7 linked regions of the Homo sapiens genome follow. The protein of the gene in region 4 purifies or fractionates together with the protein of the main gene of each other region. This does not show direct contact. Each region holds a gene or a part of one and is shown on either strand. Other genes may lie near its edges. The genes, in order: COQ8B, EI24, TRIM38, SLC2A1, OXA1L, XPOT and SMIM43.

Region 1 (4,465 bases), on a different chromosome or scaffold from region 4:
CCAGTGTGGACATAGAGCCCTCTGCATAACCCAGAAACAACGTGTAGCCTCCACTCCCTCCAGTCTCCACCATCAACACAAGCCCCGACTCCCCCAAGAGTGAGCAGCTTCCACTCCTTCCAGAGCCTGGACTAGACAAGCAGCTGCCTATTCCCCGAGTAAGCACCCCTTACTTCCCTGCAGAGCCTCCAACAGACAAGTAGCCCTCTACTCTCTCTACAACAGAGAAGCGGCCTTCGCCCCTCCTGAACAGATCCACGGTGCCCATGTTCCCAGGGTTCCTGAGAAGTCAGGCAGCCACCTCCCCCCACTCCTCCCCAAAGCCCCCAGCATGGATAAGCATCCCTCCTAGAGTCACCCACTCCCCAGGTATAGACACACAGCCTCCATTCTCCCTAGTGGAGACAAGCCCCTCCTAGAGTCCCCCAGTCCCCGGGTATCGACATGCCCCATCACCTACTCGAGTTCCTCAGTGGAGATAAGCAGCCCCCCACTGCACCCCACCAACAGACACCAGCCCCTTTCTCCCCCAGTGTCTCCCCACCTTGGTTTCAAAGCCTGTGAGGAATTTGAGGTCCCTGGACTTCTGCAGGACACAGTCTCTGTCTCCATCAGCTGCAGCCTTCACCACCTGGGGAGACGGGTGGGAGTTAGAGGGACAAAGGCCGGGGCTCAAGGGGGCTCTGGAGAAGAGGAGCTGGAAGCCTGGGCCTCCCATGTACCCACCTCCATTCTCATCTGCCTGGGCCCTCCCTCACCTGGAAGCTTCCTGCTCCCAACTTTGCCTGTCTGTGACTCCCTTAAAGACTCTTCCAGAGCCTGGGAGTGGAGGTGGTTAGGGATCCTGCCCACCTAGAGGGCAATGTGGGGCCTGCCCGGGAACTGCCACAGTGAAACAGTGCAAGAAACAAGTGTCAGGGCTGCTGGTGAGTCCAAACACTCAACTGGACGGGTATGAGCGTGACCCAGAACTGCATCCAAAGTTGCCAGGGGCCATCTCTCTGTCTCCCACACTGGACTTTGAGCCCCGTGAGAGCAAGGATCCCAGTTGGGTTTAGTCGCACGGGGCACAGGGTCTGGTGCTGAGGAGGCCCTGGGTGAACCTTGCTTTAGCAAATGAGCGTGTGGAGCAGAGCAGCTCTCCAGCCATGAGCTCACACACACAGGGCAGGAGTTGTGGGCATGGAGAGATGCCCAGCTGGGGCCAGCTGGCTAGGGTTCCGTCCCAGCTCTGCCACCTGCCGGCCTGTTGGGCCTCCACTTTCTCATCTGTGAAGTGGGGATGCCAAAAGTGCCTTCCTCATGGGGCTGTTGGGAGGATAAAGAAGGTGATGCCTGTGGCCTGCCTGGCGCTGTGTCTCATGCAGGAAGCACCGTAAATACTATAATCTACCATTATTAAGAGGTGGGCACGGGGGTCCCTATTTCACAGAAGGGGAAGCAGACCCGGAGTAGGGAGTGGAACCGGGTCACACCACTCACTACTGGGTTGCCCTTTTTTGTGAGGAGGGGGATTCGGGATTAATTCCATTCCCTCTCTGCTCCCCCTGCCCGAGCATGTCTGGCCATCTGTCAGGCCTGTGGTCCTCAGAAGCCAGGGCTTTTATAAAGTGGCAAAGGCTGCAGGCCTGGGTGGGAGGGGAGGGTGTCAGTGGGGAGAAGAAGGGTCTCAGCTTTGTGCCTCAGTGGCCGGCAGAGAGGGCCCCAAGGGGCCTGTGTGTAAGGGGTTATCACCTCCTCTTCCTGTTCCTGTCTCAGAGGTGGCCCCACCAGTCCCCAGACCAGACCCCTAGACACCTCTGTCCCCAACTTCTAGCCCGTCTGCTCCCATGGACTGCCAGCTGGGCATCTCCCAGCCACCCCTCTGCCCCTCTCCACAGCTGCCCTGAGCTCCCACCCCCAGGCTTAGAGACCACTTCTTATTCAGAGGGAGTTTTCAAATTCTGACTGCATCCCTTCCCTGCTCAAATCTTTTCCACGGCTCCGCAGGGCACCTGGATACAGTACGAGCTGTAGAGCGCAGCCTCTAAAATCCGCAGTGATTTGCTGCAGCCTCGTCACTGTGCTGCCCCCCGACCTGCCCTCCCACTCAGAATGGGAGCTTCCTTTGGGTGCTCTAGGGCCTTACTACTACCAGTGTGGTCCCCATACGGGTAGCCCTGGCCTCACATGGGTGCGTGTCAGAACATAGCATCTTACACCCACCTCCAGACCAGAATCTGCACTTGCACAGGATCACCAGGCTTCACATGCACATCCAAGTCTGAGAAATGCTGCTCTAATGGGACTGTCCCTTATCACTGCCTCGTCTTGGCACATGTTGTCTATCTGAAATACCCTCCGAGCCTTTTCCCAGTTGGCCCCCCTCATCCCTCAGGTCTCAATGCTGACACTCCCTCCTCCGGGAAGCCCTCCTTGGCTCCCCAGGCTGGCTCAGGCTCCTCCTCTGGGCTCACAGTGCCCTGCGCTTCCCCCATCCCAGCCCTGTCCATGCTAGGTCCTCACTGTCGCCTCACTGACTATGAGTTCTGTGAGGAGGGGCCTAGGCTGGGCCCAGGTCACTGCTGTGTCTCCAGCTTTGCCTAGAATAGAGCTGGGCACAGAGGAGGGGTCAGAAAACATTTAGATTGGCTGGGCAGGAGGGCTCATGCCTGTAATCCCAGCACTTTGGGAGGCCAAGGCAGGAGGATCACCTGAGGTCAGCAGTTCGAGACCAGCCTGGGCAACATGGTGAAACCCCATCTCTACTAAAAATACAAAAATTAGCCGGGCGTGGTGGCACATGCCTGTAATCCCAGCTACTCGAGAAGCTGAGGCAGGAGAATCGCTTGAACCCAGGAGGTGGAGGTTGTGGTGAGCCAAGATCGAGCCACTGCACTCCAGCCTGGGCGACAGAGCAAGACTCTGTCTCAATTAAAAAAAAAAAAAAGAAAAGAAAAAAAAGGAAAAGAAAACGTTTAGATTGATGGCTACATGATTAGAGGACCCAGGGCAAATGTCCAATCTCAACAACGAATGAAATGGTATTCTCTGCAGCCTCTAAGACAAACTGACCCCAGTGGGTGGGAGAGACGAGCCAAGTACGTGAGGAAACACCTCCTGTAGACAGAGTTGCCCCCAGGGACACACACCTGGGCTGGACACCAGGGCCCTGGACAGCATGGGGTCTGGAGAGGTGACAAGATGGTCACTGTGGGCCTTTCTCTTAGGAGGGAGCTGGGCAGTGGTTGGAAGCTTGGGCTCTGGACCTGGACCACCTGAATTTGAATCCCAAGTCTGCTGTGATCTTGGGCACGTGACTTAACCCCTCCAGGACCCAGTTACTTCATCTGGCCTAAAACGGGCCTAAAAACGGTCCTTTTCGCATTGTGTTGCTGTGTGGTTTATATCGGTTCCTATACGTAAGCACTAAAGATGGAGCCTGACATATTAAGTGCTTGGTGTGTGCTAGTTGCTACGAGTATTACTATTATTTATTATTTCTTAATTCCAGAAACTGCATTTCGCCTTCTTACTCCTCTGCCTCAGTATATGGCTTGAGCCTCAGCCTTTCAGAGGCCCTGGGGTCTGGGGGAGACTCACCTCGATGTAATGGTCTGTGAACTCTGTCCCAAACTCCCGGCTTGCACCAAAGTCCAGCAGGGTCACCTGGAAGCAAGGAATGGTGAAAGGAATGCTGGGATCCCATTCACACCCTCACTGTCTATTGGGGCAGCCAGGATCTGTCTCCCTCCCCATGACCCTGCCTGCTCCTGCCAGAGTCCCTGCCTGGCTGCCTCACTGGGCTCCTGGCCTCATCTCCCGTTTCCAACCGACCCCCTAGCTGAAGGCTTTTTTTTCTTTTAGTTCTAATTGTTTATGCAATAACAAATTTTAGACCCAGAAAAAAAATCCAGAGAATAATAAAAGATATAGAAAAGTAAAATGAATACTCACAAATCCTGCCACCCAGCCTAAAATATAAAATACTCCCCATCCGGCCACACGTGGTGGCTCACACCTCTAACCCTAGCACTTTGGGAGGCCAAGGTGGGTGGATCATGAGGTCAGGAGTTTGAGACCAGCCTGGCCATCATGGTGAAATCCCGTCTCTACTAAAAATACAAAAATTAGCCAGGTGCGGTGGTGCGTGCCTGTAATCCCAGCTACTTGGGAGGCTGAGGCAGGAGAATGGCTTGAACCTGGGAGGTGGAGGTTGCAGTGAGCCGAGATTGTGCTATTGTACTCCAGCCTGGGCAACAGAGTGAGACTCCGTCTCAAAAAAAAAAAAAAATACTCCCCATCCACGTGGAGCCTCCTGTGTATCCCGCCCTGATCACACCTCCCCCAGGTCCCCAGGGTCACCTCTTTCCTACAATCATTATTAAATTATTTCCTGAAATTCTCATTTATGCATTTCTATATTTTCTATGTATGTGTACAGCTGTAAACAATCTAGAGTAATGGTGTGCATATTTTCAAACTT
Region 2 (3,819 bases), on a different chromosome or scaffold from region 4:
AGTGTTTCTCTCTCATTAAACCTTATATTAAGATTTTCCTACAGTAAGAATTTTTTTTTTTAAAAAGCCTCACTGACATAACTGGTGTTACAGCCCCAACCCTTTACACAGCAAAAATTTCATCACTGGCTAATACTTACTATGCTTTGCCAGGGGTCTTTGCTTCATTGGCGCTGATAATGAATAAAGGAAAGAGGATAGAGAAAAGGCAGCCACTGTTTAAAAAAAAAAAAAAGAAATAATTAGTCACCTTCATAACAGACATGACTTTGAAGAAGATATTAGAAGCTCCAAGTTCTTTTGCTTCCAGTGTAAACATTATGGCTTGATGAAACCTCAATATTTCAAACATTTTTTTTTTTGAGATGGAGTCGCGTTCTTGTCGCCCAGGCTGGAGTACAGTGGCAAGATCTCAACTCACCGCAACCTCCGCCTCCTGTGTTCAAGCGATTCTCCTGCCTCAGCCTCCCAAGTAGCTGGGATTACAGGTGTGTGCCACCACGCCTGGCTAATTTTTGTATTTTCAGTAGAGATGGGATTTCACCATGTTGGCCAGGCTGGTCTCGAACTCCTGACCTCAGGTAATCTGCCCACCTCAGCCTCCCAAAGTGCTGGAATTACAGGCGTGAGCCGTGGCACCCAGCCCATCAAACACATCTTTCAAAAAGAACAGAAGATTTTTCTAAGCACTGGGCATGTTTAACATTGCTGCAGGGCTGGGCATGGTAGCTCATGTCTATAATCTGAGCACTTTGGGAGGCCAAGGTGGGTGGATCACTCGATGTCAGGAGTTCAAGACCAGCCTGGCCAACATAGTGAAACCCCATCTCTACTAAAAACACAAAAATTAGCTAGGCGTGATGGTGGGCGCCTGTAATCCCAGCTACTTGGGAGGCTGAGGCAGGAGAATCAGTTAAACCCAGGAGGCGGAGGTTGCAGTGAGCTGAGATTACACCACTGCACTCTAGCCTGGGCGACAGAGTGAGACTCTGTCTCAAAAAAAAAAAAAAAAAAAAAAAAAAAGAATAATTGCTTCAGGAGGCAACATAGAAAAAGAATATGGGATATAGGGACATTCAGACTAGATCTTCATGCTAACAAATGTAGAAATACCCTGCAGGTCTCCTGATGGACAAATGATGATGTAGAATGCGAAACAGAACGAAGCAAACAAAAGGCACTGACTTCATGAATTTTTATTTTTACTAGTCTCCTTCAAATCCCTGTAGCCAAATTACCTGATAATATATGAGGACTGCATTGCTGTGAGAAAAGCCAAGGGCAAACCAAACCCAAAGTAGTAAGGCCAATTCCTTTCTATGTTAGACAACCGCTGGTGCATTTCAATTCCTAAAACAAGAAAGCCAATACAATTAGATATTATATTTCCTTTTAGTCAAGTGACTAAGTAACTATGGTAGACAAACCATGAGTTTTAGGTACAGATTTTATTATTATTATTATTATTATTATTATTATTATTTGAGATGGAGTCTTGCTTTGATGCCCAGGCGGGAGTGCGGTGGTGCAATCTCAGCTCACTGCAACCTCCACCTCCTGGTTTCAAGCGATTCTCCCACCTCAGCCTCCCAAGTAGCTGGGATTACAGGCGCCTGCCACCTCGCCCAGCTAATTTTTGTATTTTTAGTAGAGACAGGGTTTCACCATATTGGCCAAGCTGGTCTTGAACTCCTGACCTCAGGCGATCCACCCACCTTGGCCTCCCAAAGTGTTGGGATTACAGGTGTGAGCCACCACACCCAGCCTAGGTACAGATTTAGAACAGAGCTACAGCATATAAATTAGAAGTGTACAAATCTGATATAAAGCATGCAAAGTTTCTTAGAATTCTATAATCGTAATTTCAAAGCTGACAGGCTAAGTGAATTAAGAATTTCAGCACCAGCATCCTTTGTCAGGATTAGTCTGGAACTAAGCAAGATAGCAAATCAAAAGGATGCCATCCTGTAAGTATCAGTTAACCTCTTTCAACCACGCACACCCTGGTAAATATCTGAAGGTCTTTCTAAAACACCCCCAAAAGGATCCAGATGCTGACATCAATTTGACTTCTCTAATTTAGAGCAACTCATGCTCATTTATGCCATCTTACAACCCAGTCAGAGATATACCATGTTAAGCACCAAAAAGATAATGCCATACTACCACATCCCCCAGCCTCAAAGTTGAGAGTTAAACCCACTAAGCCGAAGGTAAGCTCCCTCTTGCCAATGAGGCTGCTTCCCTCAAAGGATTGTTTGCCAAAAGCCTGACTATGAGTAGTTTAAGAAGTCTGCTTAGCAGTAGCATTTCCAAACTGGGCCTCCATTTTCTGGATTTCTTTAGATGGACTTACCTTTATTGAACCAACGATATTCAAAGCAGTACAGTGAGTAGAGAAGGGACATATGCAGGAGACTAACCAGCTGACCGACAAGATGGATGGGAAAGAGACTCACAAACATTCCCTGAAGAACAAATATGGAAAATCTTAATCCCAAAGCCTCGGAAACCTAGCACCATTCACCTGTCACTCTCCAATCACTGTCTGAGATAGCTTCCTAGCTGCTTCTCAAGTTTCTAAAAGGCCGAGTGCAGGGTGGGCACAGTGACTCATTCCTGTAATCCCAACAGTTTGGGAGGATGAGGCGGGAGGATCTCTTGAGGCCAAGAGTTAAAGACCAGACTGGGCAACATACTGAGACCCTGTCTCTACAACAAGATTTTTAAAATGAGCATGATGGCATGTGCCTGTAGTCCCAGCTACTCAGGAGGCTAAGGCAGGAGGATTGCTTGAGCCCAGAGTTTGAGGCTGCAGTGAGGTATGATTGTGCCACTGTACTCCAGCCTAGGTGGCAAAATAAGACCCTGTCTTTTATTTATTTATTTATTTTTGAGACAGTTTTGCTCTTGTCGCCCAGGCTGGAGTGCAATGGCGCGATCTCGGCTCACTACAATCTCTGCCTCCTGGGTTCAAGCGATTCTCCTGCCTCAGCTTCCCGAGTAGCTGGGATTACAAGCATGTTGCCACCACGCGCAGCTAATTTTTGTATTTTTAGTAGAGATGGGGTTTCACCATGTTGGCCAGGCTGGTCTCAAATGCCTGACCTTAGGTGATCCGCCCACCTCGGCCTCCCAAAGTGCTGGGATCACAGGCATGAACTACTGCGCCCAGCCGACCCGTCTGTCTCTTTAAAAAAAAAAAAAAATTAGGCATAACTATAAAAAGAAAAAAAGTTTCCACCTGGCAGGACTGGAGAATAACCAGAGTAGCAGAAAAAAGCAGGTAAATTCATGTTTCTTATAATTTTATAATGTAATTTTAAAATTCTCATTTCCGTGGGGAAAAAAAGATTTAAAAATCATTACCTCCCACCAGCATATATATAATACTCTGTATAAATATAATACTCTGTCTTTGTGAAGTTCTCTCTAGTGAAACAGTTTTTCTTTTTAATAAAGCTGCCCATATGCCCAGAAGGTCAGTCTCACCTGAATGAGGAAAAGAGCCTGCAGCAAAAGGTTGAAGAGCATGTCAGCAATTATTTTGCTGACACTAGGGAATGGGTGAGGCTTCCTCCCTGATACCTCAAATGCCAGGTCAGCTATATCCTGTAACAGAGAAAGTGTACCAAAACATGAATTAAATGGCCTTGATATACATCCCCAAAGCTAAGGCCACTAGTCCGCCACTAGAGCTGCCAGTTAAGAAAAGGCTTATTTAAAAATAAGCTGGGCACGATGGCATGTGCCTATAGTCCCAGCTACTCAGGAGGCTAAGGTAGGAGGATTGCTGCCTTATGCCGTGGCTCACGCCTA
Region 3 (4,465 bases), on a different chromosome or scaffold from region 4:
ACGATCATCACTATTATCTTGCTTTGCCCCAGTCCAGGTTAACCATCTGTGGTATTTTTAGTTGCTAAGTCCATATATTCAACATAAATCAATTATATATCCACTAAAATCTCAGCACTAGTCTAACTACTAAGGAAATGACAGCGAAGAAAACAGACCAAACGTCTGCCCTTATGGGATTTATATTATTTTCTCTGTGCTGGTTAAACCAAGGAGCTTCTGCTCTTTTCCTTAGTCACCTGGGGGAGGCAGAAACAAAGGAGAATATTGATAAACCTGGAAATAGGGCCGGAGAGTATCAGAGAAGGAAGCCTTCGGGAAAGTAAAGATGTGGCAGCCAGTATTCCCGTTATAAAAGGATACAACTCCGGCCTCATAGTCCAGAAAAATTCCCACAAGCAGGGGCTGCTCATGCAGATGAAGGGAAGTTGGGGGAGAAGTAAGTGCTACATAGCCTTTCTTTTTGCACAGCCTGAGGGTCCAGAATCCAGACTGAGGCTCTTGCTTCATGCCAGTGCCCCTCTGCACATTTTCCATACAAACTCCTAAATCCCATCCGGTTCCTTCGCCAACATCCACTTCAAAGTAACGTCTTCCTGAGGTGAAGCCTTCACAACCCAAGACACAGGGGAAGGCAGTAAATCTCCTGGAAGATGTGTCCTGATTCTCCTGGGTGTATCCACGAGTCACTTGTCTCCGATCCTCAGAGAGAATTAGTTCGTGATGAGCTGTATCTGGATCCAGAGTCACACTAACTGCAAAACAAAACAAAACAAACAAAAATAATTTTGTTGCTGTGAAGAACACAGGTTATTTTATTTTATTTTATTTTGAGATGGAGTGTTGCTGTCACCCAGGCTGGAGTGCACTGGCACTATCTCAACTCACTGCAACCTCCACCTCCTGGATTCAGGCAATTCTCCTGCCTCAGCCTCCGGAGTAACTGCGACTACAGGTGCGCACCACCACAAGTGGCTAATTTTTTTAAATTTTCTGTAGAGATGGGGTTTCGCCATGTTGGCCAGGCTGGTCTCAAACTCCTGACCTGAAGTGTTCCACCCACCTCGGCCTCCCAAAGTGCTGGATTACACAGGTGTGAGCCACCATGCCCAGCCACAAGTTATTTTCAATAAAACCAGCCTGTGTTCAAACCCAACTATTGTTTCTTATAAACTGGGTGAGCTTAGGCAAATCATTTAACTTTCTGAGCCTCAGTTTGTTAACTATAAAGTGGAAATTACCGTATTTGTTGCAGAGAATGGTGGGTAGGATTGAATAAGCTTATGTTTGCTTAATGCTTGGTAAAATTCCTGGTACATGGTAACCACCTAATAAGTGGTAGTTGTTGGGGTGATCAGGCCCAACACCAGGCCGTGGGGGCTACAAAGTCCGGCGGGGTCAAAGGAATGAGAAAAGACAAGTTAAGAGTGCATAAAGTGGGTCCAGGGTGCCAGCACTAGATTGGAGGCTGCAAAGGCCCTAAGCTCTGGGAGCCCACACTATTTATTGGTGATCAAACAAAGAAGCAGGTGGTGAGGACGTGAGGGTAAACAGGTGAGGGCATGAGGACATGGGGGTAGAAAGGTAGTGGTGCATTAAGCGTAGCTGTGACAGTTTAGCATTTTCTTTGACACATGTAGAATATACTCTGCTGCTTGAGATAGTAGAGGACACGTTTATGAGTGAAAAGCAAGGAACCAACAAGTCTGTGCACTTTCCAGAGGCTATGAGGGGTTTTATGCCCTGAGCCCTGGGTTCCATCCAAGCCACAAGGGGTTTTATGCCCTAGGCTTAGATTTGTGGTGCGGCAGGGCAGCCTTCCACCATTTGGCACAGAGCTTGGTGTTCCAAAGGCCACGAGGGGTTTTGGACCCTGGACCCCGGACATCTTCCAAGACTCTTTTACATTATGACAGACAAGCCAGTCCTGCTTCAGCTCTTCTAACAACATGTAGTAATAATGATATCATCAACATCATCTTCGTCTTAATTATTCAAGGATGCCAAGGTACAGAACTAACCTGTTAATATGGTTACCATCCTGTCCAAAGTTCTTCTCCCATGCAGGACTTCCAGGAATCATGAGACAGTTGAGCAGAAAGATACCTTTTCCCTTCTCTACTGAATAACCACCAACATTGAGAATCAGAGAGGGAAAATGACTCAGCTAATGTCTTAGCTTGTTATTGGAAGACCCAGGTCTCATGACACATGCCTAGTCCCATGACTTTTAATTGTAAGCTCTTCTCTTTCCCCTCAGATAATGTTCCATAAGCATTAGTATGAGATAATAATACACTGAGGACCAATATACATGAAAAATATCAGACTAGAATCAAACAAGACAGAAAAAAGATCTGATAACCTAAAGTGAGATACTGAACAGTATGCAGTTTTAAAAATAAAAAATGGTAATAGGATGTTCTAACAAGAGAGTTAAGAAACCACTGTGCTACTGAGTTAAATGTTGATCAGTTGGTCTGTGACAATTAAGGAATTCAAGTATTCAGAAACACTTCCTGTGCTGGATGCTCTCTGTTTGTTCTTCCAAATAATCCCTCACTTTTCCCTGTCTTGCTCTGTGCCCAGGAAGGCTGACATGGACAGATTAACCAGGCTTTCCGCCCTCTGGCTTGGTTCAGCCAATGGGAAGCACCAGAGGAGACCATAGGGCACAAAGAAGCAGCCTTGGGAGTATTCAGTACCCCAGTCCCACGCTATGATTTGGAGGGTCTGCATTCCTCTGCCTCTGGGCACACTCTAGTATAGTTACAGCTCCCTACACCTGCCACTTGAGGCCCAGAGGAGGTGATGGCTCTCTAACTGTTCCTAGTTCTGGGTGCTTCCTGTTCCTTGTGGATTTCCCAACTCCTCACCTTTGTAAATACCCTCCTTTTTCAAACTCTATTCAGTTAGCTTTTATCAGCCTGACTCACAGAAGTTTGGGGTTTCAATTCATATTACCTGAATGACCCAGGAAAACCCATGTTGAGAAATTAAAATGTTTACGGGGTGGTAATACCACTTAAGAGAAAAAATATCAATTGGATTTTTAAAATTCCACCTATCTATTGGTGTGACACATCAACAAAAACATATAGAAAGATTGGAAGCTAAAAGATAGATAATATAGTCATATACTGTTATAGTATTATATCAAAAGATATTAAGTCAGAGCATTATTAAGAATGGAAGAAGGGCCAGGTGTGGTGGCTCATGCCTGTAATCCCAGCACTTTGGGAGGCCAAGGCAGGCGGATCACTTGAAGCCAGGAGTTCAAGACCAGCCTGCCCAACATGGCAAAACCCTGGCTCTACCAAAAATACAACAATTAGCTGGGCATTGTGGCACATGCCTGTAATCCCAGCTACTTGGGAGGCTGAAGCACAAGAATCACTTGAACCGGGGAGGCAGAGGTTGCAGTGAGCTGAGATTTCGCCACTACACTACAGCCTGGGTGACAGAGAGAGATTCTGTCTCAAAAAAAAAAAAAAAGAAAGAATGAAAGGAGTCACCTAAAAAAGATAACACAATTTTAAACATAAATGTACTACATTATTAGTGAATTCATGTTTAGAATTGTGTTAATATACAAAGCAAAAATTGTAGAATTATAGGAGAAATGGACAAATCTACAATCATCATGGGATGTTTTAACATTCTTCTTTCCATAATTGATAGATCAGGCAGACCAAAAGAAAGAAATAAGGGAAGATACGGAAGGTCTGAACAATCTAAGAAGCGCAATCTCATAGTCAATACATAAAGCTCAGCAATTGTTTAATAATAGTAAGCAGAGAATATGCAGTTTTCTCAGGTATAGATGGAACATGCACTAACTGAGTAAATACTAGGCAGAAAACAGTCTGAACAAGTTTCAATAAATCTGTATTACACAGATCATTTTCTCTAGCCTCAATATAAGATTATAAACCAATAATAAAAAGATGACTAAAAAGATTCTAAATATTAGGAAATGTAAACTACTAATAAGTCATTAGAAGATGTATAGAATGGAACAATAATAAAAAGTTATTTATAAAAATATACAATGAAGCTAAAGCAGAATTTTAAGGAAAATTTGTAGGCTTTAAATGCTTATCTTAGAAAAATTAAAAAGCTGAACATTAATGAGCCAAGCATCTAATTTAAATTTTAAAAAGAACATAGAAAGCCAAATATAATTTTTTAAAAAGAAAAAATAGATATTAAACAATATAACAGTGAAGTTAAAGAAAACAAGAATGCAATAAAGAGGAAAAACAAACAAAAAAAAAGGTAGCTTCTTTTAAAAGAAATTTAATAAAATAGACATACCTCCAATGAGATTTATCAAAGTAAGACAGAAGGCACAAATGGAATGAATACAGAAACTTTTTAAATATTACAGAACTTTATAATAAATCTTATGCTACTAATAAAATTGAAAGTACTGATAAAATTATTACTTCCTAGAAAAAATATT
Region 4 (4,465 bases):
AGGCTTTCTGTCTTCTGGGCATTTTGCTTTGAAGGCCCCCTGCTCACCCCAACCCTGTTCTGTTTCTGGAAAACACCTCCTCTGTCCTGGCCTTAGAGTCCTAGTTCTGTCATTAACTCACTATGAGATCACAGTCAAGACATCATTAAATCCAGTAGCTGTCAACCTTGGCTGCACATTCGAATTGGTTGGGAAGCTTTTAATTGAATGCCCAAACAGCATCCCAGACCAATTAAATCAGAATCTGGGGGCGTTCTGGAAACCCCAATGTGCAACCAAGTGGAGAGCTCAACCTCCCTCTGTTTCCTCCCAGCCTGTCTTACAGACTTTCCATCTGTAAGGATTCCCAAAGGGAGCCAGTTCTGAAGCACACACTTTGGCAAGAGCTGTCAAGAGCACTTAGCAAATGCAGGGCTTGGGGCTGGTCCAAGCATGGGCCCACGGTCTCCATGCCCAGCAAACTTGGAAAAGTCCTGTCACCTCCCCTGCAGCTGAGCATGACTCAGCAGGCCAAGCCTTCCTGGTGACTTGCTCCTCAGCATCGGGCGTGGCCCCATAGCCACTGTCTGCCTATTTGGAAGAAGCCCAGCTAACTCTAGACACTACCTGGTTCCCCCAAACAGGACCCTGATCTTTGGGAGTCACTGCACTCACTTTCTAGCCCCATCCGTCTGGACAAGAAATGTGGTCCTGACGTGAGGACTGCCCACTCTCATTTGGTCCTCTCTGGGAAGGTACAGATTTTTAAACGGGCAAGGCAGCTGGTTAGGAAGACAACCTGAGGCCATGGAAACAACAGAGCTTGGCTTCTGACTCCAGCATTCAATAGCTTTGTGACCTTGGGCCTGTCGGCCATTTCATCTGCCTGGGCCTCAGTTTCCGGGTCTACAAAATGGAAATCACCACCCAATCTCATAAACACAAGCAAAATGCCTGGTACAGAGGAAGGGCTCAGTTTCCTTTCCTGTCCCTGCCTCCTACCCCCTACCCCCTTTTCCTCTTCTCTCCTCCTTAATGCAAGTAGGCTGGGCTGGAGGAGATGGTCTAGGTCCCTTCCCATCCTGACATTCAAGTAAACAAGTGAGGACAGATCTAGGATGCACGGCAGGGAGGAGGAAGCCAGCACAGACCTTCACCCCCTGTGGCTCCCTAGGGCAAGACGCCATTTCTGCTTTGACTGCCACAGGGCCTTCAGGGAGAGGACGCGGTTTCAACCTACAAATAAAGGAAGTGTGCTGCCTGTGGATGGGTATGAGTGCAGGCTCAAGGACCACCTGGCAGGCAGGTGTTGGATACCAGCTCTGTCTCTGACTTAGCTGGGTGATATTGGGCGGGTTTCCTCTCTCTGGCCGTTTCCCACACCTGCAGGCTGGGAGTGGTGCCTGCTGCCTCCTGACAGTGCTGCAGTGAGCATCAAGTGAGACAAGCCCATGAAAACCCTCTGCAGCCCCAGAATGCCACGGAAATGCAGCATTATTGTATTGAGCTTTGCTTTGAGTTTATTATATCATCAAACATATTATTAAATGACTGAGTTGGGTGGGGGGTTGGTCAAGAGGGCCTATACAAGACCCCAGGATTCTGTGGGACCTGAGATTCTAGAATTCTGCCACCCTGATTCCAAAGCAAGAGAAGAGTCTCTGACATGATCAGGGCCAGAAAACTGGCTGGAGAGGCAGACAGTACAGTGCGTTCATATAAATGACTCTAATTCAGGTGGTGGCGTGAGACTGTGGGCATGTGTGATGTGCAACAGAGCAGGCTGGTGTCCATAAGCCAACGATGGCACAGTACTCACCTTCTGGGGGGCATTGATGACTCCAGTGTTGTAGCCAAACTGCAGGGAGCCAAGCACTGCTCCTCCCACGGCCAGCATGAGGCGACCCGTCAGCTTCTGCGGAGAAACAAACCACACTGTTATAGGCGTGTCTGGGAGCAGGTTACTACAGGGCAGGGCCTGGACTGGCAAGTTTCTGTGTTCAGATATCTTGCCTGACTCTTGGCACCACACCAGTCTTTCTCCCAGGAAACTTGGCCAATTCCTGACCTTAGGTGCCCAAACCAGCCTAGCTGACTTCAAGATACTGGGCTGGCCGGGCCATTTCCTGGGGAGAGAGGGGAAGTATGATCTTCTCTCTCTGTAGCCAGGTCTCAGAGAGGGAGAGGCTTTGGATTCTTGGGGGTCTCATTTCCCTGGTGGAGCCATGCCTAGGGTCTGGTGGTTCTAGACTCTCTGACTGGGAGGCCCAGGAACCAGCCCTCCTATGCGAGGGGGCCCAAATTACTTGGTAGGAATAGCACAGATATAGATAGGAGAAGCACCCTGGATTTGGAGCTGAAGCCGCTGGCTTCTGATTCCAGCCCATCTGCCTGTTTGCTCTGTGAATTCCAGCAGGCTAAGTCCCCCATGTACCACCTCTCCCCTATCCTCCATTTGCTTGTCAGCAAAATGGCAACAGCTTCGTTTGTCACATTGGAGATGTGATCCCACCTTGCCCTACCCTTCCTGCTGTTCACAGGGCAGGAAACTGAGCCCTGAGAGGGTGAGGCAAGTTCCAGATCACTCAGGAGCCTGCAGCAGAGCTCAGGGCTCCGGACTCCTTACCCAGTGCTCCTCACGGCAATAATCCCCAAACCATAAGCCTCCCAAGGTTATATGGACATAGACGACATGCTAGGCGGGAATGCACTTTGGAAAAGTGCACAAGGTGAGTAAGAGTGTGGGGCTAAGGTGTTTCCAATGGGCAAAGGGATGGGAGAGAAAAAGAGCAGTTTGCTTCTGTCCATTGGAAGCCGAGGACCTAAGGCAGCAGGAAGGGCAGAGGCCAGCAGGTGAAGAGCCCTGCTTAGCCACAGGTGACTGAGAGGCCAGCAGGGTGTCAGCCCTGCTGAAGAAAAGTGCTCTTTTCAGCTATAAAAATGAGGAAGTCAGGAAATGTGACATTAGGCAGGCCTTTAACTGATTGTGGGAGAACAGGGCTGCGGGAGGCATGCCAAAGAAACGACTGGCATTCACTACGCACACTATACCAAGCTGGGCCCTGGAAGTGGGTGGAGCTGGCCATGGCCTGGCTGTGGGTCTCTGGGCCTTGGTTTCCACAGAACCCAGAAGCAGCCTTTACTTCAAGATCATCACAGATAGCCCTGGGCATAGCTGTTACCAGGCATATTCCCAGTATGGTCTTTTCATTCTCTGAAAGCGTCAGTCAGGGCAACGACTGCAAAAGCCAAGGCTCTCACATCAGAGGCTGCGAAAGAGGAAGAAGGCTTCGGCCCAGGAGGAGTGTGCAGCTCAGAGCCCCCTCTGTGTGTGCGCTGCATCCTTCCTTCCCATTAGTCTGTCTACCTGACCCCTTAGCCTGCCTCTGGACATTTATTCCACATGCTGGGGCTTCCCTCATACCACAGGGACTCCATTCCCTCTAAATCCTCTGCATTGCCCAACTAGAAAGACAGCCCCCACCCCCCGTATGTCCTGGCACTGCCCCCAGAATCTCCCTTCTCTCAATTCTCTGGGGAGCCTTCAGGCCCAGAGCTGTTGTTCCGAGTGGGTAGTGAGCAGCTGACAAATTTCTGGGGGACCCCAGCGACACACCAGGTCAAGCCTAATTCATAGGGTGGACACTAATTCAGAGGCTGTGGCAAGGCACTAAGCATCACCAGGAGGGCTCACTAAACAGCGACTGCTAGGCCCGCCACGTGCTGGGCTTTCTGCCTGCGGTATTACCTGCATTTGCTCATGGGATGCAAAGTATATACTGTATTTTTCTGGAACACATTAGAATAGATTAAAAAACAAGCAATGCAGTGACATCAATCTATCATTTAAGAAAACGTGGCATAGTGATATAATGGAATACATAACCTGGGAGTTCGAGGCCGCAGTGAGCTGTGATCACCCCATGGCACTCCAGCCTGGGTGACAGAGTGAGACTCTGTCCCAAAAAACAAAAGCGAAACCAAAAACAGAGCAGTGTGTATATTGTATGCTACCTTTTGGGTTAAAAAAAAAAATTGGCTGGGGGTAGGGGGAGAATATACACATCTATTTAAAAGAATGCACAAGAGGCTAGGCACGGTGGCTCACATCTATAATCTCAGCTTGAGGCCAGGAGTTCGAGACCAGCCTGGCCAACATGGCAAAACCCTGTCTCTACTAAAAATACAAAAATTAGCTGGGCATGGTGGTGCGTGCCTGTAGTCCCAACTACTTGGGAGGCTGAGGGACAAGAATCACTTTATCTGGGAGATGAAGTGAGCCGAGATGGCGCCACTGCACTCCAGCCTGGGCGACAGAGCAGACTCTGTCTCAAAAAAAAAAAAAAACAAAAAACAAAAAACAAGAATGTACAAGAAAGGTAACATTCTAACCCCGGGGGGGCCTGGGTGACTGGGGACAGGGTGAAAGGGAGATTTCATTTTATAGCCTTTGGCACTTTTTTGAATTCTGAATGGTGTGAATGGA
Region 5 (4,820 bases), on a different chromosome or scaffold from region 4:
TTTCCATTTACTCCCTCAGCCGTCTGGCTTTTACTCATATCACCTCATTCGAACTGCCAGTAACATAATTGCTAAATCCACTCCTGTCAGCTTTTTGTTTGAGGAAACAAACAGGATTCCTAATCATCTGCTTAGAGAAGTTAATGCCATACTTTTGTGATGCCAAATTAGAGAACTGAGCCTTAAAGCAACTAATTCATTCCCCTGACCTTATTTCTGGGCCTCTTAGGCATGAGTCATAGAATGGACAAGGCAAGAATAAGACCCTTTCAGTAAGGACCTAAAAGCCTTCAACCTTCTAGCTGCAGAACTGCTTTAATTTCACTCCAATCCTAGTTTGTATTTTCCAGGTACAGTCTTTGCCCGCTGCCTGATTTTTCCTCTCATCGTGACGGGCCAGCGAGAGGCAGCCAGGATCCACAATCACTTGCCAGAGATCCAGAAGTTTTCCAGTCGAATCAGAGAGGCCAAGTTAGCAGGAGACCATATTGAGTGTGAGTCAGTTGCAGAATGAGCGTGGGAGAAGTCCACATTTGCACTTTTCCTTACATTCTGCTGGGGGAAAGGAACAATGTAAATCAGAAGTTGCCACAGTCGGGAAAGTTCTAAAGGTTTATCTGTTTCTTAGACCTAATGCTCCCAAGGAGTGGCCAGGGTTGGTTAGAAATTTCACAGGCCAGGTAGATAATGAGGATGTTCACCTCCACTGATGTAACTGTTACCCCAACCATTAATTTCCCCTCACCTCACAGATTACAAGGCTTCCTCGGAGATGGCACTTTACCAGAAAAAACATGGTATTAAACTCTATAAACCTCTCATTCTCCCTGTGACTCAGGTGAGCAAAAACATTTCCTTCCTTATTTCATCCAGTACCCATGAAATTTCCTCTCTGTGTTTCATGTGTCCCAGGTCCCCCAAAAAACAGGTGGTGGTGGATTATACATGGCTTTCAGTAGTGGGGTGATGAAAATGTTCTCTCTGGTAAAGCATGCTGACACTGTTTATCTTGTGTAATAGGCCCCAATCTTCATCTCCTTCTTCATTGCTTTGAGAGAGATGGCCAACCTTCCTGTGCCCAGCCTGCAGACAGGTGGCCTCTGGTGGTTCCAGGATCTCACGGTATCCGATCCCATCTACATATTACCACTGGCAGTCACTGCTACAATGTGGGCTGTTCTTGAGGTAAGCCCAGATTGGCCAAGTGCCAGGCCTGCAAAGTGAACTGGGGTTGGAGGGTAAAGTAGTTGTACAGAATGGTCATCCTTCACTTGCTGGAGAAAGAGTTGATGGGTAAGAGATTAGAGACAGATTCACTGAAACTGACAGCTTTCCCGACTTTTCCACCCCACTTCTTTTGGCAGCTAGGTGCTGAGACAGGTGTGCAAAGTTCTGACCTTCAGTGGATGAGAAATGTCATCAGAATGATGCCCCTGATAACCTTGCCCATAACCATGCATTTCCCCACGGTATGTAATGCCTTATGGGCTGGCTCCAAGGCCTTCTGCCTAGCCTAGCCACCTAGCAAGCTGACCAGGGATACAGCTTCTGAGTCCCTTCTCTGTGTTCTCACCCAGGCAGTGTTTATGTACTGGCTCTCCTCCAATTTGTTTTCCCTGGTCCAAGTATCCTGTCTCCGGATTCCAGCAGTACGCACTGTACTTAAAATCCCCCAGCGTGTTGTACATGACCTGGACAAATTACCTCCACGGGAAGGCTTCCTAGAGAGCTTCAAAAAAGGTAAGGGCTCATCCTCTGTGAAAAAGGACTAGGGAAAGGGGTCTAAAAATAGGAATGCAACTGACTCTCTTGCTTCTCTTTACACAGGCTGGAAAAATGCTGAAATGACGCGTCAGCTGCGAGAGCGTGAACAACGCATGCGGAATCAGTTGGAGCTAGCAGCCAGGGGTAAATAGTCCTTTCAGGCCAAATTCTGTCTTTTGTTTCTTCCTTTCTGTTCTTCGTTGAAATTTGTTTTCTCTTCTCCCCTCAGGTCCTTTACGACAGACCTTTACCCACAACCCTCTCCTACAACCTGGAAAGGATAACCCTCCCAATATCCCTAGCAGCAGCAGCAAACCAAAGTCAAAGTATCCCTGGCACGACACACTTGGCTGACTTATGTTCTGTGCGCATTCTGGCAGGAATTCTGTCTCTTCAGAGACTCATCCTCAAAACAAGACTTGACACTGTGTCCTTGCCCCAGTCCTAGGAACTGTGGCACACAGAGATGTTCATTTTAAAAACGGATTTCATGAAACACTCTTGTACTTATGTTTATAAGAGAGCACTGGGTAGCCAAGTGATCTTCCCATTCACAGAGTTAGTAAACCTCTGTACTACATGCTGCTTCCTGATACTTATTGAACAGGGAAATCAGTGTGCACTTCAGAAAACTGAAGAATACCCAGCATTTTGGGAGGCCGAGGTGGGTGGATCACCTGAGATCAGGAGTTTGAGACCAGCCTGGCCAACATGGGGAAACGCCATCTCTGCTGTTTTACAAAAATAGCCACACGTGGTGGTGCACACCTGTAGTCCCAGCTACTCGGGAGGCTGAGGCAGGAGAATTGCTTGAATCCGAGAGGCGGAGGTTGCAGTGAGCCAAGATCGCACCACCGCACTCCAGCCTGGGCAATAGAGGGAGACTGTCTCAAAAAAAAAAGAAAACTGAAGAATAGAGTGAGTCATGATTGCTTTTGCTGGCCCATGGCCTTGGAAAATATAATGTTTTAACCTGGCATTAAGGGTTTAAACTTCCACCCAGGCGCAGTGGCTCACGCCAGTAATCCCAGCACTTTTGGGAGGCCAAGGCGGGCGGATCACGAAGTCAGCAGATCGAGACCATCCTGGCCAACATGGTGAAACCCCGTCTCTACTAAAAAAAAAAAAAAAAAAATTAGCCGGGCATGGCGGCGGGTGCCTGTATTCCCAGCTACTTGGGAGGCTGAGGCAGGAGAATGGCGTGAACCCAGGAGGCAGAGCTTGCAGTGAGCCGAGATTGCGCCACTGCACTCCAGCCTGGGCAAGAGAGTGAGACTCCTTCTCAAAAAAAAAAAAAAAAAAAAAAAAAAAAAAACAGTTTAAACTTCCAACCCATGCATGTGTTGTTCTATGCACATTTGGATTGCAGTCTAGAGGTGTGGCTGATAAGTTGAATGTTGAGATTGTATCTAAATATAGTAACCGCACTTCTTGATCCCAAGATTACTTTAAAAATTTCAAGAAGTAGATGTGTGCAAATTCTTAGTGATAATTAAGAATGAAAGTTCCAGGCTGGGCAAAGTGGCTCACACCTATAATCTCAGCACTTTGGGAGGCTGAGGTGGGTAGATCACTTGAGTCCAGGAATTTGAGACCAGCCTGGGCAACATGGCGAGACCTTGTCTCTGCTAAAAAGTTAGCTGAGCATGGTGGTGCTTGTCCATAGTCCCAGCTACCTGGGAGGCTGAGGTGGGAGGATAGCTTAAGCCCAGGAGGTTGAGGCTGCAGTGATCCAAGATCATGCTGCTATACTCCAGCCTTGGCTACAGAGCAAGATCCTGTCTCAAAAAGGAAGTTCATGTCATTTTTATGTAACAATCCAACATTTGACTAGAGCAGTTTAAGTGTTCTGTTGTCTGCCTTTGTGTAGAGCCTGGTTTATCAGCCTTCAGCAGCTAGCTTGAGAGAGAAAAGATGGATATACTTTCAAGCATAAGATTGATTTTAGTCTTTGTGTTTCTAGGCTAATGGGAGCTGTCCTAGAGATAGATACTATATAAAATGAAGCCACTCAGACTTTAGGAACATAAACTTTTATTGTCATCCAGCACCTGTGATAGTTTCATGTCTCTCTAAAGGAGACAGGAAATTGGAGCATTGTGGGCCCTTTTAAAAGAAAAGAGGAGTAGGTAGGCACACCCAGGTGCTTCTAAAACAACCAAGCCCAAACCTGACATGCTCCTCCCCACAGTCACCTTCATTGTCCCCTTTAAAAGTCTGGAACAGTATGTAGCAAAACAAATAAATTACTTTTCATTTCAAAAAGTAAGTTCAAAGGTTGAAGCTGCCTAGGCCAGGCTTCTGGACAGGTGCCTCCAAAGAAGTGAGCTTTCCTTTTCAACTTCCTTAGCTCTAGCCAGTAGACCAGAAACCCCTGCTTTCCACATCAGGATTCCAGATGGTGTTTAGTTAGATTTGGGATCCCGTTGCTTGGGCATCTCTCCTCCATCTTCCAAATCCATTTCTGCAGCAACTGACATACACAGGACCTGGAGGTACCTTGTGGCAGACCCTACAAAGAGAACTTTGAGTTGGAATTGAGAAGAGGTCAGCTGGGCTGAGTTCAAGTGTCACTGAATGGAACTCAGTGTGAGGGGAGTGATTCCACTAAGCCGAAGGGTTCATAAGAAGGGGCTAAGGCAAAGATGTCTTTGGAGGCTGGATTTACAGAAAAAGGCAAAAACCAAGCTCTGCAATAGCTGAGCGGACTTAAGGATGCACGGCTTACCCACGATCCTTCGGAGGTAAAGCGGTCGCTTATGTTCTGGCACTCTGATGATGAGGAAGTAAAAGGGCAGGCCTGAGAGGGCAATGGCAATGCCGATGAGGGAGTTGATAGTATCACTGTAAAGTGGAACAGCCACCAGGAAGATGGTGCAGAGGCAGAAGACAATCGGGAAGAAAACGCTGAGCTAAGGGCACAGGAAACATAACTGGAGTGGACAACTCAGGATTCTTAACAGCTAAAATAACCCCACCTCCCATAAGGATTAGCGCACTGAGCCTTCTTTCCATACCTTTAATTTCAACACATTACTAACGACCAAGTCCCAGGC
Region 6 (4,465 bases), on a different chromosome or scaffold from region 4:
CTATTATTTTCCTGTATCTGAAGGGCTCGTTACTTATTTAGTAGCAGAGACATGCACATGGTACTGTATTAGAAACTAGTTGGGATTGTTTTTTACTGCTTTAAAAGATTTTTTTCTTAAAATAAGAATAAAAACTGCTATAATTTTTAGTGAGATTGTTAACCTCATTTAGCTCATTTATAAAAAGTATTCTTTGCTATGAAAAGTAAAAAGAAAATGCCTCTTTCCTTTCCACTTACCCTATAGTTCCAAATGCCCACGTCTTTAAAAAAAATTAATTATAGGCTCATTCTTTATATTTTTCTATCATTCAGCTATAGTCATGATTATAGTTGTAGGCTACATTATATTTAATTGTTTACATTTATCCAACTATCCCAGCACTTTATAATGGATTCTTGTCATGTAACCATTTTACTTAAGACATAACCTATCATAACTGCTTATTTATGTCTGCCTAGACCAAATAACAAGAAAGTTAAATATCACTAATGTGGCCGGGCAGGGTGACTCATGCCTATAATCCTAGCATTTTAGGAGACTGAGGTGGGCAGATCGCTTGAGCTCAGGAGTTCGAGACCAGCCTGGGCAAGATGGTGAAACCCTATCTCTAGAAAAAAATTAAAATAAAAAAAAAATCATTAAGGTAAGTGTTAAAACAGCTTGTATAGATCAAGCCAAGGAAAGAGAAAATAAAATACACATGTCTGCTGCTATGGAAAGTCTCTTAAACGAATCCTTTGCATTACAATTTTTAAATAATTAGAAATAATGACTGATGTTGCATAAAGATCTGCCTTGAATCATATGAGATTTTAATACTTTTGTTTGGCCAAGTAAACAGAAAATAAATCACAACACTCACTGTTTCTATATTCAAAATATATTCAAATACCTCAAATTTTTTTGTTTCTGTTCATTTCTACCCAAAGTAAACTTTTGCCAGGTGCATTTTTATTCAAGTCCTCTAATGCCAATCTGTGGTGACATGATTAAAAAATGATTCAGCAGAGTAACTTACCCTTTGTCTAAAGTCTGAATCAGCATTTGGATTTAGCCCTAATAGAGCCTGTTCATCCATCCTCGCTGTTATACTTGTAGTTTTCTGGTTGTAATAGGCGTGCCCTCTGATCCCACAGAAGAATTTATAAACATCTGCCACAAAAAACAAAGTTGAAAGAAAACATTACTTGATAAACAAATAGATGCTTATCCTGAATAACGTAAATGGATAAAATCATGCAAAGAAGCTTAAATGTTTAAAAACTTATTTTGGAACTTATCTAAATTACAACTAAAAGTTAGAGCCTAATTCTCAGAAAAATGGGCTCTGCTAACTACTCCACTAATGTGTAATTCCTAAAAATCTGATTTTTTTTTTTGAGACGGAGTCTCACTCTGTTGCCCAGGCTGGAGTGCAGTGGCACCGTATCAGCTCACTGCAAGCTCCGTGTCCCAGGTTCACGCCATTCTCCTGCCTCACCCTCCCGAGTAGCTGGGACTACAGGCGCCCGCCACCGCGCTGGGCTAATTTTTTGTATTTTTAGTAGAGTCAGGGTTTCACCGTGTTAGCCAGGATGGTCTTGATCTCCTGACCTCGTGATCCGCCCGCCTTGGCCTCCCAAAGTGCTGGGATTACAGGCATGAGCCACCCCACCTGGCCCCTAAAAATCTTAAAGTATGCCATAAAGGTCCTCAAGCTTTCTTAGTCTTCAAGATCTTCTTAATAAGGTATAGAAAGTAATCATTTTCTACTTTAAATAGTAGAAGTACCTAATTTATGCAGTGTTTTACTTATCTCTAGTACTTAAAAATGCAATTGTGCAACTGCAGTTAAGTATAAAAATGACAAATGCAGACTATTACAGTAATTATAATAATTTGTCTACTTCCAGATACAAATATCACAAACCTTCTTTAAAACATTAGAATGGCTGACCTCAGAGTTCAATATCCTTTGGAGTGTTTACTAAGTACTATGACAGAAGTCTAATGAAAGGAACAGGATAATGAAAAACCAGTCATTTAGCTTTTGAGCAATGGACTTAGTTTTGCATTTTACAGATCTCTGCTCTTGCCAGCCAATTCTAAAAATTTCAAAAAAAAAAAAGTTTTTCAATAGTAGATACAAAAACCCACAAACCAGCCAGCTACAGTGGCTCACACCGGTAATCTGAGAACTTTGGGAGGCTGAGGTGCGCAGATCACTTAAGGTCAGGAGTTCAAGCCAGCCTGACCAATACGGTGAAACCCTGTTTCTACTAAAAAGACAAAAATCAGCCAGGCTTGGTGGCACATGCCAGTAATCCCAGCTACTCGGGTGACTGAGGCACAAGAATCGCTTGAACCCAGGAGGCAGAGGTTGTAGTGAGCCAAGATTGCGCCACTGCACTCCAGCCTGGAGAACAGAGTGAGATTCCATCTCAAAAAAAACAAAACACACAAAAAAAAATCCACAAATGACTTAACACTGACTACTCTTATTTAAGGATTTTTTTTAATCTCTGAGAGGTAATCCACTTCTTCACAATATAGGTTCCAACATTCTCAAATAATAAGCTGCAAAAGGCATCCTAGTTTTTGATAGAATGCATATTCATTTGAGCAAACATGGAACAAACTCTAAATGATGTGAAAAATGATATTATTCTCTCAAGACCTATAAGGTAGGGAGACCAAGTCTTACTACTTCCATTAAACGCTGTGGGGGGCCAGGCGTGCTGGCTCATGCCTGTAATCCCAGCACTTTGGGAGGCCGAGGCAGGTGGATCACTTGAGGTCAGGAGTTCAAGACCAGCCTGGCCAACATGGTAAAATCCCCTACTAAAAATACAAAAAAATTAGTGGAGCATGGTGGCACACACCTGTAATCCCAGCTACTTGGGAGGCTGAGGCAGGAGAATCGCTTGAACCCAGGAGGTGGAGGTTGCAGTGAGCTGGGATCACGCCACTGCACTCCAGCCTGGGTGACAGAACGAGACTCTGTCTCAAAAAAAACAAAAAAAGGCTGTGGGGCTTTTTGTTTCAATTACCGTTAACCAAAGACGCCAAAAAACTAATTGGATTGGGGGTAGGGGAGAAAAGCCTTTTGGGAATAGCAGGGGTAGGGGAGAAAGGCCTTTTGGGAATAGCAAAACCAGGCTCAGGTCCAGGTTACAGGATACCTACAATAGGCTTTTCTGTTTTCCTCTGAGCCTGCCTGAATCAAATAACTCAGGATATGGACTGAGAGCTTTGAAGACAGCTCAGCCCTTTCTCTTATGGTTCATAACGTACTTGCAGACTTCAAGGCAGTGTAACTCCCTACTGCCCTCAGATTACGATCCAAACACTTTTGAATAACTCCTCACTATTCTGCACACCAGGTCAGCAAGGCCAGTGCTAGTGAACCATATGGCAGTTCTCCAGTGGTATTCTACCTTTCATCTTTGCACACTGCTCTTTCTTCTTGTTAGTAGGTTAACCCCTGCTGTCCTTTGAAATTCAACTTAGAAGCCATCTCTTTCAAGAACACTTCTTTGACCTCTATTGTCCAACTCTCCCAAATTGGATTACATGCCCCATCCTAAGCACTGCTATGCTGTCACTGCCAGCTTACTAGTTTTCTCTCATTAATCTTTTTTTTTTTTTTTTGAGACAGTCTCACTCTGTTGCCCAGGGTGGAGTGCAGTGACATGATCTCGGCTCACTGCAGCCTCTGGCTCCTGGGTTCAAGTGATTCTTCTGCCTCAGCCTCCCAAATAGCTGAGATTACAGGGGTGAGCCACCACACCCGGCTAATTTTTGTATTTTTTAGTAGAGATGGGGTTTCACCATGTTGCCCAGGCTGGTCTCGAACCCCTAATCTCAGGTGATCTGCCAGACTCGGCCTCCCAAAGTGCTGGGATTACAGGTGTGAGCCACCCGGCCATTTCTCACAATCTTAAAGGGCAAGGACTGTCTTGACTATCCATCACTATGTCCCTAGGACATAGTAGAGCATAGGTTTTGGATTTCAAAGACCTGGGTTTGTATCCCCATCTTGTCATTTTTTAATTGGGGCCACTTGGACAACTTACAAAACCTGAGAGAACCCTTTCTATGACATGGGAAAAAGACCATATGCCTCATAAAGTTGTAAAGGCTTCAAAGAGATAAGGTATGCAGAGCATGGCTGGCACATAGTGAGCCCTCAATACGTTGTTTATAGTCAGAGGTAGGAACATGTGGAATGGAAACGACTTGGGGCATTCTTATACCAGATCAGCATTTTTAAAAGACAGAAAAACACAAAGAAAGGCACTGGTTCCCTTCGCCCCCTAAATGTTAAGAAAATCTGATGTCCATTCCCCTGAAAAATGCCCACAGAGAGAAAAAACGATTTCGGAGTTTCTAAGAATCCCTGATTGAGAAGTCCAATAAAAGCTTCCTTGAATTTGCTATGGCTTTTTAAAAAAATGCTGGCCAGGCAGGGTGGCTCACGCCT
Region 7 (3,207 bases), on a different chromosome or scaffold from region 4:
GCTCCTCTGCAACTGTATTCTGTAGCCAGGGCATAAAATGTTAGTTGTCCTCCCAAGATCCACCATCATCTTCTTCTTCATCAAGAGAAACTGGATTTTTGTCAAAGGCAGTTATATATCCAGCTACAAAAACTACATTTCTCAGACAATCTTGCAGATAGCAGTAGCCAATGACACAGTTCTGGCCAATGAGATGAAGGCAAAAGTTATTGGGCTGCTGAGGAAGCTCTTTAAAAGGAAGTGGATTTGAACTGGCATGCCCCGTTTTCTCTGTGGGCTTCCTCCTTCTTCTTGTGGGGTGCTGCGGGGACCATCTTGGAACCTGGAGGAAAAAGCCAAGGGAACCTCAGCAGCCACCTTAATTAAGCCTGACACCCGTGAGCTGCTGAACCAGCACCAGCAGCTGCCTGCCTCTAACCTCCTTGTTCTGTGAGAAAAGAACAAACCCTCTAATTTATTTAAGCCGCTCTTCAGTCCAGAACTTCCTATTCCATTACCAAGATAAAAATTCATCTTGATTCCCAATAGGAAAGTGTGATTTTTCATCTGAAAGGAAAAGACATCTTGCTTGAAGAATCTGTACCTATTCAATAAATTCAAGTAACTTCAGAGTCATACTAATAAAACAAAAGTCGCAGATAATGGTTTTAGCTCAAACCCACCCATGTCCTTCAGGATCTGTCTATACAGACCAAGAATGGCAGAAATGTTTGGGCTTATTATATAAAAAGCTACTATTAAGGAAAAAAACAAGGTTTTTTTAACCTTAATCCATCAGAAAGCTTTTTCTGCATGCTTATTAAGTTCTGATTACTGGGTCTGAACGCCCTTCTGATAATCCACCTTCCGGTATGGGAAGATGCTCATGACTCAGATACTTAATCAGATCATTATTAACCCATAACATTATTTATTTTGTGTAGACAAAATAAAAAGTGGAGGACTGAGAAATTTATTTCACTGATTCAAACAAAAAAAAAAAACTACATCAAAGATTTACAACTCAATTCTTAACCTTCTCTTGTATGTGACACAGACATCTGACAGTGACATTCTAATGATCCTAGAGTTTTAATTGTGGATTTAGCTTAAATATGCACGAATATCTCAGAGTAGCTGTAAAAATTAAAAACAAAGTACAGCACTGTGTAGATACCTTATGCATTACATTAGTATCTTTAGTGTTCTAACAGTCTCTAGATTAGTAAGTGTGACTTAGAAAACAACAAACATTTCCCACTATTCTAAATGGTTTAACCATTTACAAACTTTAAAATTTTGGTCATTTAAAATTTAACTCTATTGCACTGATTTTGAAACTATAGACAAAATTGGAAATATAGAATGTCAAACTAAAAATAGAGTATTTCATATTTTTTACTCACCTAGTTCCAAGTTTCCACCCCTGCAAGCGAACCAAAAACAAATCCTGGCACCTTGCCATTCCCAGAAAAGCCAGTGCATGGCACACTCTGGGTAAATTTTCTCTCTTATTCTGTAGAATCGCACCAGATGGCATCAGTTCTGCATCTACAGCTGTGCCCTAAAATTGAAGTTCAGACATAGGAATCTACTTTATTAGACATTTTAGATTTTGCAGGTGTGAGTGTGATGTCATTCTCATTCAACTTAAAATGGTTATCTTGCCAAGTAGAACTGCAGATCCATTGCACTTACAAGTTTGGAAATTAGTGCAACAGCCAAGATTGTCCTGATAAGATCTGAAGCCATTTTGAACACCTGAAATTTAGAAACAATGATGAAATAATAACATTTGAAATAAAATACAAATATTACATAATAGAATTATGGCTCATTTCCTTATAATGTAAGAAATTCAAGTCACCTTCTAACATTGCTGAAGAATCACTAAAAACCTTTTTATTGAAAATAAAACACAGGAATCTTCTATAATCAAGTTACATTTATATAATAAGCAGTTATGTTAAATGTTCTTGACTTTTCAAGTGCTTTAATGTCTAGCTCATATATATACAGTCTTTAAAAATAGATTTGGCACATAGTGATTGTCAGAACAGGGGATCGTCAGGGGATGGAGTAGCCAACATGTAGAAGCCTGCAACCTAGACCATTGTGGGTGTCAGAGTATTTGATCTAAGCCAAAAATGCATAAAGGTGGCCAAAATTGTGAGTTTGAAAGTAGTTCTAATTTGAGAGATCAGTCTATGTCAGGTCTTGGAAAAATGATGATTGAATAAATAAATAAACAGCAAAAGACAGCTCATCTACAGCTGTCAAAGTTTCAAAAGCAGAGTCTCTAACAAAGCAAGTGCAGGGCAGGAGATCAACAGCAGCAAGATCTAAGAGCAAATGTGAGTTACCTTAATTCCCAGAGCTTAGAGTCAAGTTCCAAGCAGAGGTTGAGTAATAGGAATAAATATTCATTGTGGCCTGGATAAATGGGAACTTGGTCATTAATGAATTTGATTACAAGGAGTTAATAAAATGGCCCTGGATACAAGATAGAAAGGCACCCCTGCTTTCTTAGGAACCTGAGTCAGTAGAACCAGCTGAGAGATTGGATTAATACTGAGATGGTAATAAACTACTCACCCTGACTTTTCAATAGTCTCTTGTTTAGGAAGAATGATGGGCAGGTTAAATTCATGGATACCAGTGGTGCTGCTAGGAAGATTAAAGGATTGTAAACTCAAGAAGGCAAGCATGTGGTTAAAATAATTTCCATTCTGGTTATTCTAAAGTGTGAAATGATTGTTTTCAATCCTTACAAACAACTATAATTGCTAATTAATTACTCCCACACTCATCTTCAATGTCCATATTAACCATACAACCTTTTAACTAAATGCCACTGCAGAGATATCAACCAATTAGAGAACTATTGTTCAAAGCACAATACAGAATCACTGCAGTTGATTCAGGGAGTTCAAACTGGGAATTCAAATCAAGTCTTACCATAACTCTGATAAAGAGGTGAGGATTTGCTCATACCATAATAATTAAAGTAAACCTCTTACTTCATTAAGAACAGGCCTATTTGGGGAGAGTGAAATAGAAAGTGGGAAATTATCTAATGTCTTGGGCCAAAATTATTCACCTGAGACTATTTTTCCTTTGAAGCATTAAAATAATTGTCTTACACTTCACTTTTATATTATCAACTTAGGCAAACTTTAGTATTTCATTGTTTTTAGCCTCTCTATATGGTCTTTGTGTCTAAAATTA

Evidence for each region.
Region 1: the proteins of SLC2A1 (region 4) and COQ8B purify together in Homo sapiens (affinity purification with mass spectrometry; one large-scale study listed by BioGRID and IntAct). This does not show direct contact.
Region 2: the proteins of SLC2A1 (region 4) and EI24 purify together in Homo sapiens (affinity purification with mass spectrometry; one large-scale study listed by BioGRID and IntAct). This does not show direct contact.
Region 3: the proteins of SLC2A1 (region 4) and TRIM38 purify together in Homo sapiens (affinity purification with western blotting; one study listed by BioGRID). This does not show direct contact.
Region 5: the proteins of SLC2A1 (region 4) and OXA1L purify together in Homo sapiens (affinity purification with mass spectrometry; one large-scale study listed by BioGRID and IntAct). This does not show direct contact.
Region 6: the proteins of SLC2A1 (region 4) and XPOT purify together in Homo sapiens (affinity purification with mass spectrometry; one large-scale study listed by BioGRID and IntAct). This does not show direct contact.
Region 7: the proteins of SLC2A1 (region 4) and SMIM43 purify together in Homo sapiens (co-immunoprecipitation; one study listed by IntAct). This does not show direct contact.

The regions. Positions count from the first base shown.
Region 1 is NC_000019.10:40,692,407-40,696,871, forward strand, and holds part of COQ8B (atypical kinase COQ8B, mitochondrial), read right to left. Parts: intron 3,649-4,465; coding exon 3,583-3,648; intron 632-3,582; coding exon 545-631; intron 1-544.
Region 2 is NC_000011.10:125,578,742-125,582,560, reverse strand, and holds part of EI24 (etoposide-induced protein 2.4 homolog), read right to left. Parts: intron 3,613-3,819; coding exon 3,493-3,612; intron 2,469-3,492; coding exon 2,357-2,468; intron 1,351-2,356; coding exon 1,239-1,350; intron 216-1,238; coding exon 141-215; intron 1-140. UniProt on the Homo sapiens protein: Acts as a negative growth regulator via p53-mediated apoptosis pathway. Regulates formation of degradative autolysosomes during autophagy.
Region 3 is NC_000006.12:25,979,454-25,983,918, reverse strand, and holds part of TRIM38 (E3 ubiquitin-protein ligase TRIM38), read right to left. Parts: intron 756-4,465; coding exon 232-755; 3' UTR 1-231. UniProt on the Homo sapiens protein: E3 ubiquitin-protein and E3 SUMO-protein ligase that acts as a regulator of innate immunity. Acts as a negative regulator of type I interferon IFN-beta production by catalyzing 'Lys-48'-linked polyubiquitination of AZI2/NAP1, leading to its degradation.
Region 4 is NC_000001.11:42,941,428-42,945,892, forward strand, and holds part of SLC2A1 (solute carrier family 2, facilitated glucose transporter member 1), read right to left. Parts: intron 1,895-4,465; coding exon 1,799-1,894; intron 1-1,798. UniProt on the Homo sapiens protein: Facilitative glucose transporter, which is responsible for constitutive or basal glucose uptake. Has a very broad substrate specificity; can transport a wide range of aldoses including both pentoses and hexoses.
Region 5 is NC_000014.9:22,769,441-22,774,260, forward strand, and holds the end of OXA1L (mitochondrial inner membrane protein OXA1L), read left to right. Parts: intron 1-350; coding exon 351-494; intron 495-752; coding exon 753-838; intron 839-1,020; coding exon 1,021-1,185; intron 1,186-1,364; coding exon 1,365-1,469; intron 1,470-1,577; coding exon 1,578-1,740; intron 1,741-1,827; coding exon 1,828-1,908; intron 1,909-1,993; coding exon 1,994-2,118; 3' UTR 2,119-3,602; downstream 3,603-4,820. Other genes in the region: SLC7A7 (Y+L amino acid transporter 1), read right to left, coding at 4,170-4,276, 4,493-4,676.
Region 6 is NC_000012.12:64,406,652-64,411,116, reverse strand, and holds part of XPOT (exportin-T), read right to left. Parts: intron 1,156-4,465; 5' UTR 1,082-1,155; coding exon 1,022-1,081; intron 1-1,021. UniProt on the Homo sapiens protein: Mediates the nuclear export of aminoacylated tRNAs. In the nucleus binds to tRNA and to the GTPase Ran in its active GTP-bound form. Docking of this trimeric complex to the nuclear pore complex (NPC) is mediated through binding to nucleoporins.
Region 7 is NC_000004.12:121,760,153-121,763,359, forward strand, and holds part of SMIM43 (small integral membrane protein 43), read right to left. Parts: intron 2,647-3,207; 3' UTR 2,575-2,646; intron 1,741-2,574; 3' UTR 1,678-1,740; exon of another isoform or gene 1,544-1,677; 3' UTR 1,386-1,543; intron 323-1,385; 3' UTR 1-322. UniProt on the Homo sapiens protein: Required for mesendoderm differentiation. Interacts with glucose transporters and promotes glucose uptake. Probably augments the glucose uptake capacity of glucose transporter proteins to meet the energy needs of mesendoderm differentiation.